Regions from separate parts of the Homo sapiens genome. Here region 2 is linked to region 1. The links come from fine-mapping of genetic effects on plasma protein levels. Region 1 holds a variant in brackets. A gene starts in the other region. All regions are shown on their reverse strands. Region 1 overlaps STC2 (stanniocalcin 2). Region 2 holds the start of CRLF1 (cytokine receptor like factor 1).

The links. A credible set is the group of variants that fine-mapping cannot tell apart. PIP is the chance, under the fine-mapping model, that this variant and not a neighbour inherited with it causes the effect. Protein levels are from antibody-based Olink assays in UK Biobank. Linkage for the fine-mapping came from a reference panel and not from the study's own genotypes, which makes the PIPs less certain.
Region 2: it holds the start of CRLF1, and the variant in region 1 is the best candidate, but not a certain one, in a credible set for the plasma level of the CRLF1 protein (UK Biobank, PIP 0.62).

What each region holds. Positions count from the first base shown.
Region 1 is chr5:173,321,999-173,324,898 of GRCh38, reverse strand. It overlaps STC2 (stanniocalcin 2), which reads left to right. Exons shown (of 4, transcript NM_003714.3): 3 at 1,469-1,680. Among named protein-coding and RNA genes, the nearest start is that of STC2, 5.0 kb to the left of the region's middle. RefSeq lists an enhancer at 656-1,156. The variant G/T (reference allele first, on the strand shown) is at 1,782.
Region 2 is chr19:18,605,497-18,608,396 of GRCh38, reverse strand. CRLF1 (cytokine receptor like factor 1) reads left to right here and starts at 1,598. Exons shown (of 9, transcript NM_004750.5): 1 at 1,598-1,855. The coding sequence starts at 1,741. RefSeq lists an enhancer at 1,558-2,476.

The DNA.
Region 1 (2,900 bases):
ACCAGGGAAGGAAAGAGGTAGAACTTTGAACTCCTTGAGGCTCCCTAATAAAGCATCACTCTGGATTAACGGGAATTAGGAAACGTAATAGGAAATCCGGAGGAAAGACGTGTATTTAAGGGCAATCCCACAGGATGTCAGGGAAGAATACCAAGAACAGATTGCCACAGCCCTCGCATAAATTCATCTTCCTCTTTTTTTTCCCAACCAACAGGAATACGTTCTCAAGTTAGAGACATCCCTTTCAAGTTGATGCTCAGCACATAACTGCTTAATAAACGGGCACACCCTGCCCTCCATTCTGTTTGGCTCTGGCTGGAGAGTCAAAAGAGAGGGGGCCACGGGGAGGCCATGCGGGCCACATGGTTTTTCAGAGATCAGACGCTATCTGTAGACATTTCTATGGCTGCTAAAGACAAAACCAAAATAAATGTGCTGGCTGGCTTCCCACTTCCAACCTAAACCCATTTACTTTCTCAACTCAGTGACTTCCGGGCCTGTCTAAAAACAGAGGGGTGACCTCTCCGACGACAGCTAGTTTCTATAGTAATGTGGGGTGCGGGGATTCCCGGGTAGGCATCCCACAATGCCTCCGGGCTGCGCGAGGTTGATAAGGGAGCAGCACCGAGCTCGCCTCCACACCCCCAACAGCTGTCTCCTTTCTAGGATAAGCACAATCAGACGGGGTTGCCAGGAAAGAGAACTGCAGGCCAGATGTATGCCTGGCTGCCTTCGCCACTCGGAGGCAGGGAGCGTGGGGGAGGGGCCGCCAGTGCGGCAGTTCAGACTCCAGATGCTGCCAGGCAGGGTGCCAGGCCAGCCTTTTAGAGGCAATAATCCGAACAGTTTAAAGGAGTAGAGTCATTTTCAAAAAGGAAAAGAGCGCTCTTCCTGGTAGGGTAGGAGGAGACAAGGGTATGGATTTGGGGCGTGGGAGGCACGGAGGCAGAAAGGGAGGTACAATCAGCAATCAATCTCGGTGTCGCCCCTGGAATCAAGGGAAAAAGGAAACGTGTGAGATTTGGACATGCAGGCACCTTCCACTTAGGGAAGACTGCTTGTGAGAACCGTGAGGGATTTATGGATTTGTGTCTGGCCAAATTCCCTTTGTGTTCCAGAAAAGTTGCCACCACACAACCAACACAGGGCTACCTGAGGGACACATAGCCACGGAAGCCCCCGTTGGAGGGAAACTCACAGAGTAGCCAGGGAGGAAGGAGGGAGATGTGTTCGTCTACAGAATGAACATCCCTTGTTGCCCAGTGCTGGGGGTGTCATGTCACTCTGGACGTGCCTCCGGATGTCGCATTGCCTGTCACCTGGGAGGACGTCCGTCTCTGGTGGGGCCTTGGGGTTCTGATGTCAGAAATATCCTGTGTAAGCCCAAGAAGGGCTGAAATGTCCAAGCATGTAACGAGGTCTTCTGCTTTCTGCCCCTCTCTCCCTTCCCCGGCCTGTGTGTTCTCAGGGCAAGTCATTCATCAAAGACGCCTTGAAATGTAAGGCCCACGCTCTGCGGCACAGGTTCGGCTGCATAAGCCGGAAGTGCCCGGCCATCAGGGAAATGGTGTCCCAGTTGCAGCGGGAATGCTACCTCAAGCACGACCTGTGCGCGGCTGCCCAGGAGAACACCCGGGTGATAGTGGAGATGATCCATTTCAAGGACTTGCTGCTGCACGAGTGAGTACTGCCCCGCAGAGGGCCTGGGTGAAGGGGCCACCCAGCAAGGATGGCAATGTGTATGGGAGGAGAGCCGCGTTGCTTCTAGAGGCTGAATGCCT[G/T]TCAAATGGAGAAGGCTTCCATTTACTTCAGAAAGCTACACTGACTCTACTAAAAGGCCCCTTTCCTGCTGGCTTTTAGGAAAAGAGAGAATTCCCTCATCAGTCTCAAAATCACAAGCAACAGAAATGGGAAATCGTTTTACTAAGAATGAAATGTGTCGATTCAGTAATACTCTTCATCTTCCCCTTAGCCAAGAACCCACTAGCTCTCAGAATATTCTGAGTAGCTGTAGAGGTGTCCTTACAGACAGCAAATTGCTAATAACATTTGTTGAATATTTACTAAGCGCCAGGCACTGGGCTAAGGGCTCCTTGTGAATTTTTCACTTGATCCTCACCACAGCCCTCGTCACCTCCATTTGACAGATGAGAAAACTGAGACTCACTAAGGCAGAGCTCACACAGCTAGTGACAGGCAAAGCCAGACTTGGGACCTGGCTCCAGTCTGCTGAGCAGTCTGCCTCCAGAACCTATACTCTTAAATCCCGAAAACAGAGCTATAGATGCTTTTCCTGCCTCCTTAACTTTCCTTTCCCTTAGAAGGTTCGGTTTACCTTCTCTCATACATTAGTGCCCTCTCAGAGGAAATGCAAAACAAGTGCCAAAAACTTTAATCAGCTAAACACTTCTATGCCAAAACAAGGAAATGTGAACTTACTTATTTCAAGACTTGAAATTCAATGATAAATTCAGGATGCATCATTTCTTACAAAATATTTCAGCCACAGGATCCTAAATTTTGCAGCATGGTAAAGCATGTTGGTACACAATTGTTCCTAACATGAGGCAGGGCCAGGAGCCCCTGAAGATTTTTTTTTTAAATATTGACAATGGCTCTTTCCTAAGAGACACAGGGCAGAAAGAAAGCCACTAGCCAACCAGTTCAGTACAAGTCATTACCAGTTTGATGGCACTGTTGGTCTCTCCACGGTGACTCATTGAGCCAAATCGGTATAATTTTATGAACTCTTGATCCTCAGTTTGTGCCACAACCTTCTTCCAGTTATGTCCCTACCACACCAACACCACTTAGATGACAGAGAACAGCAAGCACCTCCTGTCTCTTTCCACTTGGTTATAAGGTCATAGGCATCTTGCAACACCCTTGCTACAGTGTTA
Region 2 (2,900 bases), not on the chromosome of region 1:
GGTGCCCACTGTGCAGAGGAAGAAACTGAGGCACAAAAGGCCTGGTTTCCCGAAGTAAATGGCAGCGTCTCTCCTTGTCTGTCTTCTCCATCCAGAATTCAGATGGAGCAGGGGCGCCCTGGGCCCCTATAGGCTCCCATCCCCCAATCTTGTTTTTTGACAGTCTGGAGTCTGAACTGGAGATTTAAGTAGGAGAGGGTGGGGCTTCAGTCTTGGGCAGACAAATGGGGGCTCCTGAGCCCCCCTCAGACACTTTTACCCCCTTGGCTGGTTGGGGACCAGGAGAGAGAATCCAGGCCTCTAAGGGACTCCTGGAAAAGGGGACTTGGAGCCGTTCCCTTCCCTGGGCGCTGCAGCTGGGGGCGGGGCTGCGACCAAAAGTGGGTAATTGCACCCCCCAACTCTCATTTCAGGCACCCCCATCCGCAGCAGCCTTGGAGGCCAGGAACCCTTTATTCCTGGGCGCCCGCATCGGGTGGGGACCGGGAGGAGGGAGATGAGACGCCCGGACCGGGAGGGGTCCCGAAACTCGAGCAATGGCCAAAAATAATAACACGGAGAAGGCTCTTTGCGCAAAAGAAGGAAGACAAACTATGCGTCGCTCCGGGCAGCCGGCGTTACCTGGAGTCGGCGGGCGGTGGCCGCCGAAGCGATTACTCACCGCGTGGCGCACCCCACCCGCGGGCCGCTGAGTGGATTTTTCCGTGGCGGGGTGTGAATAGGTCCCGGGGAAAGAGCTTCTTACCGCTCTCCTCCTGGGAATCCCTCTTACTGCGGTGCGGGACCCAGTTCCCGCGCAGGCCTGGGTCCCGGCTCCCACAGGGGACTACATCTCCCCGTCTGCCCACGCAGGAGCTCCCTCCCGAGGCCCCCGGGGCGCCCAGAGCAACCTCAAACCCATCCCGCGCGCGAAGGGGACAGCGCAGCCAGGGCGAAGGCGAGGGACTCCGTGCCTTCCTGCTTTTTCTCCTTTCTTCCAGCAAAGCCTGGGGCCGAGGCTACTCGCGGAGAATCGAAAAGAGGCAGGATGAGGTGGGAGGGCTGGAACCCGCGCGCCGAGGGCGTGGGGCTGGGGGTGACTTTTAGGCCCCTGGGAAGGCTGAGGGGCTGGAGATGGGGGTAGGCGGGACTCAAGGACCGCTCGGTGGGGGGGGCGGGGCCAGAGCTGGGGTGGGGGCCGAGACAGAAGATTGGGCCGTGGAAGGGGGAATGGAGGAGTGGGGCAGGGTTGGGGACCAAAGGGGCCACTGAAGAGGCACTGGGCTGAGAGGAGGGTGCAGGGAAGTGGGCAGGGTTATGGAAACGGGATTGGGGGTGCCGGGTCCCAGACTGGGGGTGGGAAGCCTGGAGCTGGCAGGGTTGGAGAGGGAGGTCCTGGGCCGGTAGGGGTTGAGTTAGGGGGCTTTGGGCCGCGGGATAGGGCGCGCGCGGTTCTCGGTGGGGCGGAGGCGGGACGGGCGGGGCGCGCGGTGCCCGCGGGCGGGCGGGCGGCGGGGAGGCCGGTGCGGGGCCCGCCGCCCCCCCGGGGCCGGGCCGGGCCGGGGGCGGGGCCGGGCGGGGCCAGCGGCGCATTAGCGCCTTGTCAATTCGGCTGCTCAGACTTGCTCCGGCCTCCGCGTCCGCGCCCAGCGACGTGCGGGCGGCCTGGCCCGCGCCCTCCCGCGCCCGGCCTGCGTCCCGCGCCCTGCGCCACCGCCGCCGAGCCGCAGCCCGCCGCGCGCCCCCGGCAGCGCCGGCCCCATGCCCGCCGGCCGCCGGGGCCCCGCCGCCCAATCCGCGCGGCGGCCGCCGCCGTTGCTGCCCCTGCTGCTGCTGCTCTGCGTCCTCGGGGCGCCGCGAGCCGGATCAGGAGCCCGTGAGTACCCGGCGCCCCACTCCTTCCCCCCTGCCAGAGCAGAGGGCGGGCGCCCCGGGGGCAGCCGCGGGGGGAGGGGGCGCGGGCGCCACCTGGACGGCCGGGGAACAAAGGAAGGCGCCCCCGGCGCAGCCCTCGGGGCGCCCTCACCTGCGGGGCACACGGCGCCGCAGTCCACTGTCCAGAGAGTCCTGCTTCCGCGCCCGAGGCCCTGTTACCTGGGCAGCTGGGCCGAGGGCGCCAGGCCAGGCCCCCGGGGGCTGGGGGGATCGCGGCCTGAGACCCTCTGCATGCCAGGACGTGGCGGGCGCACGCGTCTGCTTCGGTGGACTCTGGGCCCCTGGGACTGCAGGGCACCGCTCCCAGGCGGGGGCGCACGCGGTTGGCGCGCTGGGTGCGGGCCCCCAGCGGGCCCCCCCAGGCGGAGGGATGAGCCCCACGGGGAGGGCGGGGCTGCAGGGGGGCCGCTCTGGCCGCCTGGCGCGCAGCCCGGGGTCCCGGGGGACTTGTGTCTCCACGGGCCGGCGCCACCGCCCTCCCCCTGCGGGACCCGGCGCACGGGGGTCCGCGGAGTCCCCGCCACCGGCGGCGCTTAGAACCGTTTTCAGCCAGGCTGCGTCGGGCGGAGAGCCTCCAGCGAGAGGAATCTTTGTGAGCGAGTGGGTGAGAGGGAGAGGGAGCGGGAGCCAGTGAGTCCGGGCACCAGCGGGCCCAAACTTTGAGGGGGCCCACTGGGAACCCGCTGCCCTACGGGCCAAGACCCCTGCCCTGGAGGGACTTCTGGCCTCAGGCACTCTGGGGCCCCCCATCCAAGGAACACCCCCGCAAGGATACGTCTCCGTATGCAGACCCGCTCTGGGACACACCCAGAGACACACAAAGAATCACACTGGCTTGTGGCCCGTCACCCTCGCCCTCAAACTCGCGCACACTGCATCCCAGGTGCACATTCGCGCACCATCGCGGACGCACACACATTCCATCCCCGACACACACATTCACGGTCACACACATCCCACAGGGGAGGCGACCCAGGGGCACAGAG